Regions from separate parts of the Homo sapiens genome. Here region 1 is linked to region 2. The links come from fine-mapping of genetic effects on gene expression. Tissue or cell type: whole blood. Region 2 holds a variant in brackets; the other region holds the start of a gene. All regions are shown on one strand. Distances are between the middles of the regions.

Region 1 (8,101 bases), 31 kb before region 2:
TTTTCTTTTTTTTTTTTTTTTTGAGATGGGGTCTTGCTCTGTTGCCTAGGCTGGAGTGCGGTGGTGCAATCTGGTCTCACTGCAGCCTCCACCTCCCTAGTTCAAGCAATTCTCCCACCTCAGCCTCCTGAGTAGCTGGGATTACAGGCGCACCACCACACCCAGCTAATTTTTGTATTTTTTTTTTTTTTCAGTAGAGACAGGGTTTCCACCATGTTGGCCAGGCTGGTCCTGAACCTGAACTTTCCTGAACTTTCGGCCTCCCAAAGTGCTGGGATTACAGGCATGAGCCACCATGCCTGGCCTATTTTAAAATTTTTAGTAGAGACGTAGGTCTTATTATGTTGCCCAGTCTGGTCTGGAACTTCTGGCTCAAGTGATCTCCTCCCACCTCGGCGTCCCAAAGTGCTGGGATTATACGTGTGAGCCACTGCGCCTGGCCTGGCTTCCTCTTATAAGGCTCCCTGGGCTTTCTCAGACCTCCAGAGTCCACTCCACCTGGATGTGGTGCCAGTCAGAAGGATCAGGGAATTGGGATTTCGAACTGCTGGGCTCAAACGATCATCCTGCCTCGGCCTCCTGAGTAGCTGGGACTACAGGCGTGCTCCGCCATGCCCAGCAGGAAAATCTTTGAGAAGTTGAACAAGGGTTCCCCAGTTCAGCTCTGAGAGGCATAGGGTCCTTTCAGCCAGAAGTTCCTCACCCTGGACTTGGTAAGAAAAGGCTCTCAGGGCAGTGCTGAGACTCAGGAGGCTGGGATACAAGGAGTCACTTTATGAGGTCCCCTATTGCTCATTTGTAGGCCTGAAAGTCAAGGCATGTGGCCAGGGGATGGAACCTTTGATTGGCACCTAGATAAGCCTCTTCTAGGAATTCAGGTTATAGTCCTGCTTGCAAGTGTATGTAACTATAGGCATGTCATTGGCCGGGCACAGTGGTTCACTCCTGCAATCCCAGCGCTTTGGGAGGCCGAGGCAGGTGGATCACCCGAGGTCAGGAGTTTGAGACCAGCCTGGCCAACATGGTGAAACCCCGTCTCTACTAAAAATACAAAAATTAGCTGTGTGTGGTGGTGCACACCTGTAATCCCAGCTACTTGGGAGGCTGAGGCAGGAGAATCGCTTGAACCCAGGAGGTGGAGGTTGCAGTGAGCCGAGATCGCGCCACTGTACTCCAGCCTGAGTGACAGAATGAGACTCTGTTTCAAAAAAAAAAAAAAAAAAAAACTATAGGCATGTCACTGTGGAGAAGTAAACTACTCAAATAAATGCCTATGTTTAAAGCTACCACAGCTGATACTTGATGTAATGAGTAGTAGCCCCTAAAAATATATATCCCAGCTGGGCATGGTGGCTCATGCCTATAATCCTGGCACTTTGGGAGGCCAAGGTGGGAGGATCTCTTGAGCCCAGGAGTTGGAGGCTAGCACGGTGAGGGCAGGGCAACAAGCAGACCCCCATCTCTACAAAATGAATAAATAAATAAATTAAATTAATAAATAAGCTGGGCGTGGCGGTGACACCTGTGTGCAGTCTCAGCTACTCAGAGGCTGAGATGGGAGGATCACTTGACCCCAGGAAGTTGCGGATGCAATAAGCCATATGGCACCACTATACTCCAACCTGGGCAAGAGGGACGCAGTCGTAAAAAAATTTACACACACACACACACACGTATATCCAAATCCTAACCTGCTGGTAGCTGTGAATGTGACTGTAATTGAAATAGGGTCTTTGCAACTTGATATACAGTGAGGTTCATTTGTTTGTTTCCATTTTTAGGGATTTCTTTTGATTTTTCCTTTTGACTTTTATTTTTAATTATGCTTCCAAAGTTGAAACTAGACAATAAGGTACACTGAAAGAAGTCTGGCTTTCATTCTTATGATTTCATCTTGTTCCCTTATTCTCCCAGGTTACTTTTTTTTTTTTTTTTTTTTTTTTGAGATGGAGTCTTGCTCTGTCACCCAGGCTGGAGTGCAATGGCATGCACTGTAACCTCCTCCTAACCGGGTTCAAGTGATTCTCCTGCCTCAGCCTTCTGAGTAGCTGGGACTACAGGCACGCGCCACCACGCCCAGATAATTTTTGTATTTTTATAGAGATGGGGTTTTACCATGTTGGCCAGGCTGGTCTCGAACTCATGACCTCAGGTGATCCACCTGCCTCAGCCTCCCAAAATGCTGGGATTAAAGTGTGAGACACCGTGCCTGGCCTATATTTTGGTTCATGCTTCTTTTGTTTGTTTGTTTTGAGACAGTGTGTTGCTCTGTCACCCAGGCTGGAGTGCAGAGGCAGGATCACAGCTTACTGCAACCTCTGCCTCCTAGGCTCAAGCAGTTCTCCCTGCTCAGCCTCCTGAGTAGCTGAGACTTCATGCACAGTCACCACACTTGGCTACTTGTTTGCATTTTTTGTAGATTCAGGGTTTTGCTGCTGTATTTCCCAGGCTGGTCTGGAACTCCTGGGCTCAAGTGGTCCAGCCACCTCAGCCTCTCAGAGTGCTGGGATTACAGGCATGGGCCACCGCTCCTGGCCTGGTTCGTACTTTTTACGTTTCTTTTTTTTTTTTTTTTTGAGACAGAGTCTCACTCTGTCGCCCAGGCTGCAGTGCAGTGGCACGTTCTCGGCTCACTGCAACCTCTACCTCCCGGGGTCAAGCAATTCTCCTGCCTCAGCCCCCAGAGTAGCTGGGATTACAGGTGCCCGCCACCATGCCCAGATAATTTTTTTGTATTTTTAGTAGAGATGGGGTTTCACCATATTGGCCAGGCTGGTCTCAAACTCCTGACCTCAGGTGATCTGCCCACCGCGGCCTCCCAAAGTGCTGCAATTACAGGCATGAGCCACTGAGCCTGGCCTTTATGTTTCTTATTAAAAATATAAGCAAATTTGGTTCACGTGCTTGGTGTGGTTAAAAAAAAAAAATATATATATATATATATATACACACACACATGCAAATATATATACACATACACATGCATGTATTTCTCTTTTTGCACACAAAAGAGGACATATTGTAAAAACTGTTCTCTACCTTGGTTTTTTTCACTTAAGATATCCAGACACCATTCAATGTCAGTATATGAAGATTGTCTTCATTCCTTTTTATAGCTGTATTACTCTATTATTTGGTCGCATTGGGTTTTTTTCAGTCTTTTGATATTATGAATAATGTCAATAAATAGCATCAGTCATTTAAAAACGAGGCTGGGCGTGGTGACTCATGCCTGTAATCCCAGCACTTTGGGAGGCCAAGGTGGAAGGATCACCTGAGGTCAGGAGTTCGAGGCCACCTCCTGGCCAACATGGCAAAACCCCGTCTCTGCTAAAAATACAAAAATTAGCTGGGCATTGTGGCATGTGCCTGTAATCCTAGCCACTCGGGTGGCTGAGGCAGAAGAATCCCTTGAACCCAGGAGGGAGGGGTTGCAGTGAGCTGAGATCGCACCACTGCACTGCAGCCTGGGTGATAGAATGAGACTCCATCTCAAAAAAAAAAGAACAGGGTCTTCGCAGATGTAATTAAGGATCTTGAGATGACATTATCCTGAAATTTATGGTGGACTTAATAAGAGAAAGGAGTGTCCTTTACAAGAAAAAGGAGCGGCCGGGCTCGGTGGCTCACGCCTGTAATCCCAGCACTTTGGGAGGCAGAGGAGGGAGGATTGCTTGACCCCAGGAGTTCGAGACCAGCCTGGACAACATAGGGAGACCCTGTCTCTACTACAAAAAAAAAAAAGAAAAAAAAAAGGAGAGATACATTTGAGACTCAGAGACACACAGAGAAGGCCAAGTGACGACAAAGGCAGAACGCGGAAGGCTGCATCTACAAGCCAAGAACTCCAAGGATTCCCAGCAGCCACCAGAACCCAGGAGAGAGGCATAGGACACACAGATTGTCCTCAGAGCCTCCAGAGGGAGCCAACTGTGCTGACAACCTCACTTCATTATTCTGATCTCTTGAATTGTGAGAAAATCACGTTCTGTTGTTTTAAACCTCGCAGTGTGTGGGCATTTGTTACAGCAGGCCCCAGAAAACTAATAGCATTCGCCTATTTACTTTGTTTACTGTCTGTCTCCCTGAGGGCCACGAATTTTGTGTTTTGTTCATTCTGTGAGCAGAAACAGGCACAGAGTAGGTAATAAGTACTTAATATGTGCCAGACGCTGTTTTAAGTGCTTTTACATGGTTTCATTCATTTCATCCTTACAGTAAGCAACGTTTTGGAGCAGACACTACTATTTACAGGGAGCAAACTGAGGCCCCGAGGGTCGTGGTCAGGATTCCAACCTATTAAATGATGTTCCCTGGATAATTACAGAATCAGAAAACTAGGAGTCGGAAGGGCAACATCAGGCACGGCCCAATCACCACGAAGCCTCGATTTCTCTCTCTCTACTGCAAACGAAAGGCATTAACTGGCTTTGCCCACAGCGTGGAGCCCAGGAGACCGACGAAGGTTTCACCTGCGCACGCATTTCCTCACAATGCACCCCGCGCCGGCGCGCGTTGCTCCGCCTCCTTTTGCATTACAAGCCGCGGCACTTTACGGCTCTCGTCCTCGTTCCTCCGGCGGGAACACGGCCCGCCCCGCCCTTTCGCCCAGCGGGCCCCGCCCTACTCCGCGTGGATTGGTTGACCGCCCTTCGAGCCCGGTGCTGACTGGCTTGCGTCTCTGCCACTTTCTTTCAGCTTAGTGGCGCGCGGCGCGGCGACGACCGCCGGGAGCGTGTGCAGCGGCGGCGGCGGAAGTGGCCGGCGAGCCCGGTCCCCGCCGGCACCATGGTGAGGGCAGGGCAACTGCGGGGTCTCACCGGGAGGCGGGAACAGCAGTCGTTGGGATCCCTGCGGGCGGGCGCTGTGGGCTTGGTTGGCGCGGGGCGAACGTAAGGTCCGAGCCTCGAGTCCCGCCCCCCGGCACGAGGCTGGGAAACTGAGGCCGGAGACTGCAGGTGGCTCTATCACGTTCGTGTCTGGGATTTAGGGTTGCACGGACTTGTATCCACAGTACAGTGGCCTCGCCTTAGTTAGTTTTCCCAGTTTGCAGGTGGGGAAACTGAAGTAAAAAAAAAAAAGGTGGGGATCCGCCAAATGCAGCAGAGAGTTTTTGGGCAGGGAAGGGGTCCCTTACGCTTCGGGCCCAGTCTGACCTCCCTGATTGAAAACTAGAGTGCTGGGAAGTAGGGGGCCAGTCTGAGTTGTGAAACTTAGTTTTAGGAATTTCAGAGCTTGCAAGATGCTAGCAGCACAGCCTCCTAGGCCTCTTGGTTTCTGGCTGAAAAGCAGGCCTGGTGCTGGGGTGTGGTGTTTCTCCTTGGGTCACATAGCATGTCATTCCAGCGGAAGGGGGCGTTTTGAGCTAGGGGTGGACAAAGTACATCCTCCCAATACAAAGAAGGAAAAATTGCGGCCCAGGTCTCTGCAGGGCCCATTGTTTATGATTCTGGAAGTTCTGGATCTGGGCTAGAAAGTGCCCGTGTCCCCCACTGTGCAGATCGGAAAAGGAATTCAGAGCTGGGAGTTTCCTGGCCCATCAGCTTCTGGTCCTTCTTTTTTCAATGAGAGAAACCAAGGCCCTTGTTGGGGATGTGACTTCCAGACTCTGTGAGACAGTGGGAGATTCAGTAACCAGGAGGGTCCCCCAGGGGTGGCTGCATCAGAACTGTGGATTAGTGAGAACTCTCCCTAAATCCGGCTGGTCAGTGTGTAACCACCCAATGGGTTCACCTTGCCTGTCTTCCTAGACAGATTTATCAAGACAGGGGAATTGCAGTGGAGAAAGAGTATTTCACACAGAGCCAGCTATGCAGGAGACCAGAGTTTTATTATTGCTCAAATCAGTCTCCGCTGAGCATTAGGGGATCCGAGTTTTGAAAGATAATTTGGCGGGTAGGGGCTCAGGAAGTGGGGAGTGCTGATTGGTTGGAGCTTCCTGAGGTCGATGGAGTCATCGACGGGAGTGTTGAAGTGAGGTTTTCTTGCTGTCTTCTGTTCCTGGGTGGGATCGCAGGACTGGTTGAGCCAGATTACTGGTCTGGGTAGTGTCAGCTGATCCGTCAAGTACGGGGTCTGCAAAATATCTCAAGCACTGATCTTAGATTTTATAATAGTGATGTTATCCCAAGGAGCAATTTGGGGAGTTTCAGACTCTTGCAGCCAGAGGCTGAAGTTACCTAAATGGTAATTTCTAATCTTGTAGCTTATTTGTTAGTCCTACAAAGGCAGACTGGTCCCCAGGCAAGAAGAGGGTCTTTTCGGGAAAGGGCTATTACCAATTTTGTTCCAGAGTCAAACTATAAACTAAATCCCTTCCCAAGGTTAGTTTGGCCTATACCTAGGAATAAGCAAAGATGGCGTAAAGGTTAGAAGCACAATGGAGTCGGTTAGGTCTGATCTCTTTTCACTGTCATAATTTCCCGCTACAATTTTTGCAAAGGCGATTTCAAGTGCAAGGATTCAGAGAGCCTGTCCCTCTCTGCGGTGTACTTAGAGGGCAGAGTTGGCATGTAAGACTGGGCAGAGCTGGAAGGATCCATCCCTGTGTTAAGTTTTGTGGGAGCAGGATCTTCGTTTTTCTTCCGACTAGATTCCCAGTATGTAGAACGGTGCGTGGGCAAAGTGTGAACTCATTCATTCAGCCCCTTCCCACCTTCTGAACATCCAGAGTCCTGGCTGTCCAGCTGTTTCCTGGAGGAGTAGCCGAGAATGGACAAGCCATCACAGGATACACACTTCCAGTTCCCTGTCGTCAGGGCAGGGCCAGAAGGAGTGGCCTAGGTTAGCAGCGGGGATGGGCAGTCCTGGACAGCTTCCTGAATTAGGAGGCACTGGGTTTAGGTCCTCGTGGATCTAGACCTGAGAACCAGATTCCAGATGCTCCAAGAAAGCCCAGAGAAAGGAATTCTCTTTTCTGAATTTTCTTGTGACCTTCCATAAACCAGGGTGGGGCCTCTCCTATCACACTTGGCACTTTTTTTCTTTTTCTATTTCATTTTATTTATTTTTTTGAGACAGAGTCTTGTTCTGTCGCCCAGGCTGAAGTGCAGTGGTGTAATCTCAGCTCACTGCAACCTCCACCTCTCCGAGAGTGATTCTCCTACCTCAGCCTCCCAAGTAGCTGTGATTACAGGCACGCACCACCACACCTGGATAATTTTTGTATTTTCAGTAGAGATCAGGTTTCACTATGTTGGCCAGGCTAGTCTTGAACCCCTGAGCTCAGGTGATCCACCCACCTCGGCCTCTCAAAGTGCTGGGATTACAGGCGTGAGCCACTGCACTCTAGACTTTTTTTGTTTTTCAGAGCTGAGATCTCACTCTCATCCAGGCTGGAGTGCAGTGGCACAATCACTACAGCCTCAACCTCACTGGCCCGTGATCCTCCCACCTGACCTCAGCCTCCCAAGTAGCTGGGACCACAGGCATGCATCACTAAACCTGGCTAATTTCTAGATTTTTTGTAGAGACAGAATCTTTTGTGTTGCCCAAGCTGGTCTCATACTCCTGGGCTCAAGCGATCCTCCCACCTCAGTCTCCCAAAGTGCTGTGATTGCAGGCACAAGCCACTGTGCCCAGCCTCACCTGGCACTTTGATGTATCTTCTTTTAAGATTTTGAGGATCCACCCCTTCCTCTGACCTCTCTCCAACAGAGTTTGGAGATGAGGATGTAGGAGAAATCAAGATATATGGTCACAGGCCCAGGCCATTGCAGCCTGGGAGGGCCTGGGAGTCAGGCAGCTCCCTGTCCCGCAGCCACTCCTTCCCTTACCTGTGGGGTGGGGCGAGTGTTCTGCCTTCCCTGCATGCCTCCCTGGGTAGTGTGTGCATTTTTCTTGTGTATTTATTCAGCAAATATTTACCGAGTCCCTCTCATGTGCCTGGCCTTGTGCTTGGCCCTGGACAAAGTCCACACCCACTTTGAGTGTTCCAGTCTAGCGAGGGACACAGGTAATAAACAAGGTAATTAAAGACTGGCTGCATCCTATGATGGAAACAAACACCCATGAGGCAGAGGGTGGCCATTAAAAGGGCCTGGCCAAAGGAGGTGACGTTTCAGCAGCCTGGGGAAGGTCACCCCAGGCAGAGGCAATAGCA
Region 2 (8,101 bases):
TCAGCTGATGGACATTTGGGCTGTTTCCAAGGAAGGGAGTTTACTGAGTGTTTAATCTGCAGTGGGCACAGGTCTAAGGGCTTCCTCCCAACCCCTGCCCCAGTTATGAGGTCATCCTGCTAGCACCATGTCCATTTACCCATTTCGTAGTTGGAGATATGAAGGCACAAATAGGTCCCTGAAAGAACCACAGGTCAGCTCTTTGGCCTTTATACTCTGGGGATGGGGATAGAGGCAGACATTAAGGAAGGCAAGAATTAAATATGGTAAACCCAGAGCACTTTGGGAGGCCAAGGTGGGCAGATCACCTGAGGTCAGGAGTTCAAGACCAGCCTGGCCAACATGGTGAAACCCCGTTTCTACTAAAAATACAAAAATTAGCAGGGTGTGGTGCCGTGTGCCTGTAATCCCAGCTACTCGGGACGCTGAGGCAGGTGAATCGCTTGAACCCGGGAGATGGAGGGGGCAGTGAGCTGTGACTGCGTCACTGCACTCCATCCTGGGCAACAGAGTGAGACTCCATCTCAAAAAAAAAAAGAGAGAGAGAGAGAAAGAAAGAAAGAAAGCCAGCCAAGAATTAAATATGATCAATTCCAGGTGAGTGAGTCTCCCAGACAGTGGGAACAGCATGTGCAAAGACCCCGAGGTGGGAATACATAGCTGTACCCAAGGGAAAGCTGGCATGGAACAAGTGAGTGGGGAGAAGAAGAGGGGAATAGACGGCAGCTGCTGGGGGGCCTGGGGATATGGGGAAGGATCTAAGATGGACTCAGATGGGAAAACAGAGAGATTGAGAGATGCAGGAAGAGAGAGGGAGCAAGACTAGGAGAACAAGGAAGAGATAGGGCCTCAGCATCTCAAGGCCTGGCTCCAAGTAGCCAAGGAGGCCTTGTCCTCACCCAAGTCCCTGCACCCCAGACTGCTGATACCCTGCCTGCATCGACAGTGGCAACCACCATGTGCCCAGAAGGATGTCAGTACACGGTAAGTGCTCCAAAAATGTTGAGTGAATGGATGAACACAGGAATGGATGGATGGGTGGGTGTGTGGTAAGTGGATGGGTGGCTGGATGAATAGGTGGATTGGTGGATGGAAGGGTGGATGGTGGACGGATGGGTGGATGGTGGATAGGTGGATGGGTGGATGGATGGGTGGATGGATGGGTGGGTGGGTAGATAGGTGGATGGGTGGATGGTGGATGGATGGGTGGATGAGTGGATGGTGGATGGATGGATTGGTGGGTAGATAGGTGGATGGATGGATGGATGGTGGATGGGTAGATGGTAGATGGATGAGTGGATGGTGGATGGATGGTGGATGGGTAGATGGTAGATGGATGAGTGGATGGTGGATGGATGGTGGATGGGTAGATGGTAGGTGGATGGTGGATGGATGGTGGATGGGTAGATGGTGGATGGATGGGTGGATGGTGAATGGGTGGATGGTGGATACATGGGTGGGTGGGTAGATAGGTGGATGGGTGGATGGATGGGTGGATGGGTGGGTGAGTGGATGGTGGATGGATGGGTCAGTGGGTAGACAGGTGGATGGATGGCTGGTGGATGGTTAGGTGGTGGATGGGTGGACGGTGGACGGATGGTGGATGGGTGGATGGTGAATGGGTGGATGGTGGATGCATGGGTGGGTGGGTAGATGGATGGATGGTGGGTAGATGGATGGATGGTGGATGGGCAGATGGTGGATGGGTAGATGGTGCATGGATGGATGGCCGCTGGGTGGAGGAATGGATGGATGGATGAATGGGTAGATGGTGGATGGATGGGTGGATGATGGACTGATTGGTGGATGATGGATGGGGGATGAGTGGATGGTGGATGGGTGGATAGATGGACAGGTGGGTGGATGGATGGTAGATGGGCAGATGGTAGATGGATGGGTGGATGGTGGATGGATGGGGGATGAGTGGATGGTGGATGAGTGGATGGATGGGTGAGTAGGTAGATGGGCGGATGGCTGATAGAGGGAGGAAGACCTGACACTGAGGTCCGCTCCATGAGAAGCAGCGTCTCCCACCTTCCAGCAGATGACTGAGTGGTGTCTGGTGGAGGAACTTGTCCAGTCCTTCCCGAGGTCTCACCCACCCCTCTGCAGCCTCAGAAGACACCCCCAGGGTGGAGGCTGGAAAGTTGGGGCTGGACAGGGTGCTATGAGCGTAGGCCAAGCAGAGGCGTGCCGGCCGGGTACCAGATGCTGCTACCTGCCTCTGCCGCTGAGTCAGCATCACCATGGCAACTGGCCCTGCCGGATGCTTCTCTGGGCACATCCCCGTCACTGCAGCCACCACCGTCACAGCCGCCTCCTCACAGGGGGCAGGGGGAGCAGCTATTTTTACACAGTTTGTGTGCAGCACTCAGGGGCCAGGGTGCTCACCTTCCCTACACCCCCTCCCCTGTTAGTGTCAGCCCCACCATCTCCTGAAGGGGGCTTGGGAGGATGTTGTCACCTGGGGTGGGCATTGTGAGAACAGATGAGGGACATGTACAAGGGCTGAGTGGCTGGACTGCAGGAGAGAAGAGAGCCAGGGGCGATGATGGGGAAGACTGGCCACAGCAGGGAGCCACAGAGGGTGTGGGGAGGCCAGAGGGGCACTGACGGAGGGCACAACAGGGGTCCCTGTGACCCTGGGCAACCTCCACATCCCCAAAGCCTCCCCTGCTGCTTCTGGAGCATGCATAATGGTAGGAAAAGTGAGGCAGGGAGAGCAGTCACAGGCTCCACCTGGGCTGGCCAAGGACTCAAGCCACCCCCCACCCTCCCTGCTTAGGATCTGGAGGCCCCTGTAATCCTCCATCTCTCCTCACCCTGCGCCACGCCTCCTCCTGGATGTTCCCTTAACACACCTCAAATTCAGCCCGGGTACAGTGGCTTACGCCTGTAATCCCAACACTTTAGGAGGCTGAGGCGGACGAATCACGAGATCAAGAGGTGGAGACCATCCTGGCCAATATGGTGAAACCCTGTCTACTAAAAATACAAAATTAGCTGGGCATCGTGGCGCACGCCTGTAATTCCAGCTACTCGGGAGGCTGAGGCAGAAGAATCGCGTGAACCTGGTAGGTGGAGGTTGCAGTGAGCTGAGATCGCACCACTGTACTCCAGCCTGGGGGACAGAGGGAGACTCCTCTCAAAAAACAAACAAACAAATACCTCAAATTCCTCCCCAGGGCCTTTGCACGTGCTACTCCAGCTTTCAGGAACACCCTTCCCTGGGGCATCCTCATGGTGGCCCTGCTGCTGGTATCATGGATCCTCTGGCCCCCCCCACCCCACACTCCCTCCGCCTGCTGTCATTTGCTTTCTCACCACCTGACTTTATATCATTCACTTCTTTCAGTTGTTCCCGTCCCAAGAATGAGGGGCCACTGAGTCACCTCACAGCACATAGCCCACACTTCGCTTCGCTGGGCTCCTCTCTGATGTTTTCAGGGACAGGGCGGGGACTTGGGTTGACCGATGGCTCCAAAGGCAGGCATGACCTTCCTTTCAGGCCACAAGGCCCTATCAGAAGTCAGCAGTCAGTGCGTGAGCCAGGCCTGGAGGCTAACACCAGGGCCAGGAGTTATTCCACCACAGGTTCCTCCAGGAAGCCGCCTCCTACCGGGAGCCTGCCTGGGTGCCTCCAGGCCACACCCGGAGCTCCACCTC[C/T]CTTACCTGGTTGTCTCTCTGTCTCTGTCTTGCTCCTAGATTTTTTTCCAGCCTCCCTCTCCCGCTGTCTCTCCTTCCAACTCATTTTTTTTTCTCTTGGTTTATTTCCAAGCCACGATATTGCTTTTCTCTTCCGCTATCTCGAAGCTCTGGCCCTCCAATCAGGAGGCCCGATTTAGTACAGCCTCACCCAGAACGTTGGGGCCGTTCCTTTGGCCTCGATATACCCACTCAATAAATGGGCTTGTCCTAGAGCTTAAGGCCTGCCCCTGGGGGGGAGGAAATTCCGGTGGCGGACACCCTTCCCCATCCCCGGTTCAGGGCCCCGGCGGGGAAGGGGTTAACCACGCGCCGTCCCTTCCCCCCAGCTCTGCATTTAATTAGCAGTCCGGTGGGGCGGCCTCGCTGGGCGGGCGGGGGAAAGGGAGAGAGGGGGTGGAGAGGAGATCGGGGGAGACGGGAGGGAGAAGGGGATAAGGAAGAGGGGAGGGGAAGCTGAAGCAGGAAGGGGAGGGAGAGGAGGGGAGTGAGCGACGGGAGGAGAGGAGGGGGCTGGAGAACCAGCCCGGAATTCACAGACAGCCTCGCAGGTGTCCCCGCTCCAGCCTCTTTCTTGGGGTGCAGTCCCCTCCCACACCCCCTTTTCAAGGCCGAACCCAGCGCCCACACTAAATGTCAACTCTCCCCATTATCCGGTTGAGGAAACTGAGGCCATGCAGAGGTGGTGATGTGCCAAGTCGCAGCTCGGGGCAAACGTTTATTCGCAGGTATTTGCGCAATGGAAAACAAGCCCAAACCAGCTCCAGGTCGTCCGGCGACCTGGAGGAGCTGGGAGGGGGCGGTAGTGTGGGACGCGGGCTAGCGGGCTTAGCACCAGCCAGGCCACGGCCGTTCCCGTGCCTCAATTTCCCTCTCTGCACAGAGCCCAGTAAATTGCTTGCAGGGCCGACCGCCCCCGCCCCCATCCCCGCGGCCTCCAGCGCCGCGTGGGGTGGGGGCCGGGCGGCCGAAGCGTCCGCGTCTACGCGGCACCACTTCGCCCTGACGTTGGCGCTGACGCCACCCGCCAGCTCGCGGCGGGGTCCGGCAGCCCCGGGAAGTTAACTCTTCCACTGCCGCCGACAGCTCCGAGACCTCTCCCCCCGGATCCTTTCTCCCCCCCTCCCATTAGGGGAGGGGCCACACGCTGAGGACCCCGCAGCTAGGCGAGGCAGGAGGCCTCCACCAGCCTCCAGGCCTCTGCCCGCGCCGTTCCCTCCGCCTGGAATGCGCCTCCCGCCCCAACCCAACCCTGTGTTTACTGCGACTTCCCTCCCTTCGGCCTGGCCCTGACCCCTCCGGGGCAGGGCGTGTCCGTGTCTGGCTGCTAGTACCGGCCCGGGGTGGGGTCCTCTCTCCCCAACAACTCGCTGTTTCCAACTCAATGTCTTTCCCCCCATTTTTCATTCGAGAACCATCGAAGACCAGGAAACTTACGGACGTCACCTGGCCAGGGACTGAGCAGCGCCTGCCCAGCTCCTAGGGCTCCCCGCCCCCACCCCTGTACGCGGAGATGCCGTCTCCCGGCGGCGGAGAGGACCCCGCAGGCCCCGCCCTTCCCCAGGGGAAGTGAGAATAGGGTGCCCACCCCCGCATTCTCGCCACTTCCTCCCCGGGAGAGCGAGAGGCGAGGAGCAGGGGGGAGGCGGGAGGCGGGAGGAAGGGGATGCGGGGGCAGCGGGAGGCGGGAAGGCGTGGGGTCTCTCCACTATTGCCCCTGCTGTAGCGCTTAAGGGCCCCATGTGCACGGCCTTTGATACCACTCAGACAACTTTGGGGTCCCCCAAAGTTGCTCCTTCCTTGGGGTCCTTTCTGAATCAACGCGGACCCTGCCGGTGCCTCCCCATCCCCGCAGCCTGGGGCAGCGGCCTCTTCACCCCCTGCCGCCTGCCTTGCCTCCAGTTCCATCTACTCCCCATCTGGGGCCCAGATCCCTTCCGCTGGCTGGGGGCCAGGTCCAGCGCCCCGTCTGCACCAGTCCGGACCCCTAAGCTCGCTCCAGGAACCCCCAGTCTTGGTGCAGAAATGCAGCCCACGATGTGCAGGGCCAACTGGCTTCGAATCTGCCTTCCACATACTGAAGCCTTTCTTGGCTGACAGCCTCAGTTTGTCCATCCGAAAAAAGGGGACAAAGCATATCTAGATGGCTCACGCCTGTAATCCCAGCACTCTGGGAGGCCGAGGCGGACGGATTACTTGAGGTCAGGAGTTCCAGACCAGCCTGGCCAACATGGTGAAATCCCGTCTCTACAAAAATACAAAAATTAGCCGGGCGTGGTGGCGCACGCCTGTAATCCCAGCTACTCAGGAGGCTGAGGCAGGAGAATCACTTGAACCCAGGAGGTGGAGGCTGCAGTGAGCCGAGATAGTGCCATTGCACTCCAGCCTGGGCGACAGAGCAAGACTGTGTCTTAAAAAAAAAAAAAAAGAATACCTGGAGAATGGGTTTCCCATCTTGGCAGCATGAATACTTCCACTCATTCATTAATTCACTCATCCATTCATTATTCTACGAACTCATCCATTATGCTACTTATTGCATTCATTCCTTTACTCATTCACTCATTCATTGATTCACACACCACAGACAGCCAGGGAGGGCGGCGGGCCACAGGGGCCCACATCTCAGTGTGGACAGACGTCAGGGGCCCACAGGACCGTGGGTGGGGACAGCCCCAAGGCTGCAAATAAACGTTTGCCCAGAGCTGCATCCTGGCATGTCACCAAACCAAACCGAAGCCTCCCCAGAGAGGCCCCTGTGGGGTCCCCTGCCCAAGAGGCAGCTGCCTGCCACCTCCCCCACCCCTCCCCATTCAGGCACCACCCTGCCCTCAGTCTGTCAGCGGGGAAATGGCTCAGTACCTGGAAAAGCCACGAGTATGTGGTCGGATGCAGGCAAAACCCACACATCATGGTGGGGGGGGGCACCTACAATAATGGGTTGCATGTTAACAGATCAACACACATTCATCAAGCACCTACTGTGTGCTGGGACCCACGGGACTGGAGCATCTGCCAAGTGGGTCCCTGTGGCCCCTCCTGCCCTTCTGCTTGGGGCTTCCCTGCCTTTGATAAGACTCAGACATTCGAAGTCCAGCCCCAGCCCTGAGTGTTCCTGAGGTGGGAATGCCTGACTTTGCTCTCATTTCATAGTTTTTTGGTTTCCTTCTATTTATAGCAAGAGAAACTGGTTTTCCATTCTTGGTGGTGACATGAAGGTTCCCTTTTAAAATGTATTTACTGAAGTAAAAACAGAAAAGGGGGCCAACTTAAAGGAAAATCGTGAGACCAACCTACAGCATGCTTCTCTAAAATGACCTTGCTTCCAGTCCCCCAGAACATCACCTCTGGGCGGTGAGAACCCACCTGCCCAGCACACAGCGGGCACTCAATAGAGCATGGTCGTCGGGCGCAGTGGCTCATGCCTATAATCCCAGAACTTTTGGAGGTTGAGGCAGGCGGATCACTTGAGGTGAGGAGTTCAAGACCAGCCTGGTCAACATGGAGAAACCCCATCTCTACTAAAAATACAAAAATTAGTTGGTGTGGTGGCATGTGCCTGTAATCCCAGCTACTCTGGTGGCTGAGGCACTAGAATTGCTTGAACCTGGGAGGCAGAGATTGCAGTGAGCTGAGAACGTGCCACTGCACACCAGCCTCAGAGACAGAGTGACACTTTGTCTCCAAAAAAAAAAAAAAAAAAAAAAGCATGGTTGAATCGATGAATGATGGTATGTGAGTTTGGCCCAAAACAACCAAGAAACAAAAAACCAAACCAGCTTTTTTTTTTTTTGAGACAGGGTCTCGCTCTGTTGCCCAGGCTGGAGTGCAGTGGCACGATCTCAGCTCACTGCAATCTCTGCCTCCCAGGTTCAAGCGATTCTCCTGCCTCAGCCTCCTGAGTAGCTGGGATTACAGGCATGCGCCACCACACCCGGCTAATTTTTCTATTTTTAGTAGAGATGGGGTTTCACCATGTTGGCCAGGCTGGTCTCGATCTCCTCACCTTGTGATCCGCCCGCCTCAGCCTCCCAACCAGCTAATTTTTCTATCTTTTTGTAGAGATGGGTTCTTGCTATGTTGCCCAGGCTGCTCTTGAACTTCTGGGCTCAGGAGATCCTCCTGTCTCTGCCTCTCAAAGAGCTGGGATTATAAGCATGAGCCACCCTGCTCAGACTACAAACCAATTTATCTTTTTTTTTTTTTTTTTTTTTTTTTTGAGACAGAGTCTCACTCTGTCACCCAGGCTGGAGTTCAGTGGTGCGATCTTGGCTCACTGCAAGCTCCGCCTCCCGGGTTCACACCATTCTCCTGCCTCAGCCTCCCCAGTAGCTGGGACTACAGGTACCTGCCCACCACGCCTGGCTAATTTTTTTTTTGTATTTTTAGTAGAGAC

What was found. PIP is the estimated chance that this variant, and not a neighbour inherited with it, causes the effect.
Region 1: it holds the start of LSM4, and the variant in region 2 is fine-mapped to the expression of LSM4 in whole blood (TOPMed, PIP above 0.99).

What each region holds. Positions count from the first base shown.
Region 1 is chr19:18,319,708-18,327,808 of GRCh38, reverse strand. It overlaps LSM4 (LSM4 homolog, U6 small nuclear RNA and mRNA degradation associated), which reads left to right and starts at 4,733. Exons shown (of 5, transcript NM_012321.5): 1 at 4,733-4,791. The coding sequence starts at 4,789. It overlaps LOC105372300 (a long non-coding RNA gene), which reads right to left. Exons shown (of 2, transcript XR_007067157.1): 2 at 5,812-6,075. RefSeq lists enhancers at 3,592-4,194, 4,393-4,612 and a silencer at 4,673-4,852.
Region 2 is chr19:18,288,904-18,297,004 of GRCh38, reverse strand. It overlaps LOC124904653 (a long non-coding RNA gene), which reads left to right and starts at 4,162. Exons shown (of 2, transcript XR_007067155.1): 1 at 4,162-4,433; 2 at 5,118-6,415. RefSeq lists silencers at 2,181-2,260, 2,120-2,302, 3,387-3,589, 4,544-4,713, 5,164-5,593 and 1 more, enhancers at 2,539-3,178, 3,734-3,813, 3,179-3,817, 3,818-4,457, 4,458-5,096 and 1 more and cis regulatory regions at 3,223-5,778, 6,358-6,726. The variant C/T (reference allele first, on the strand shown) is at 3,667.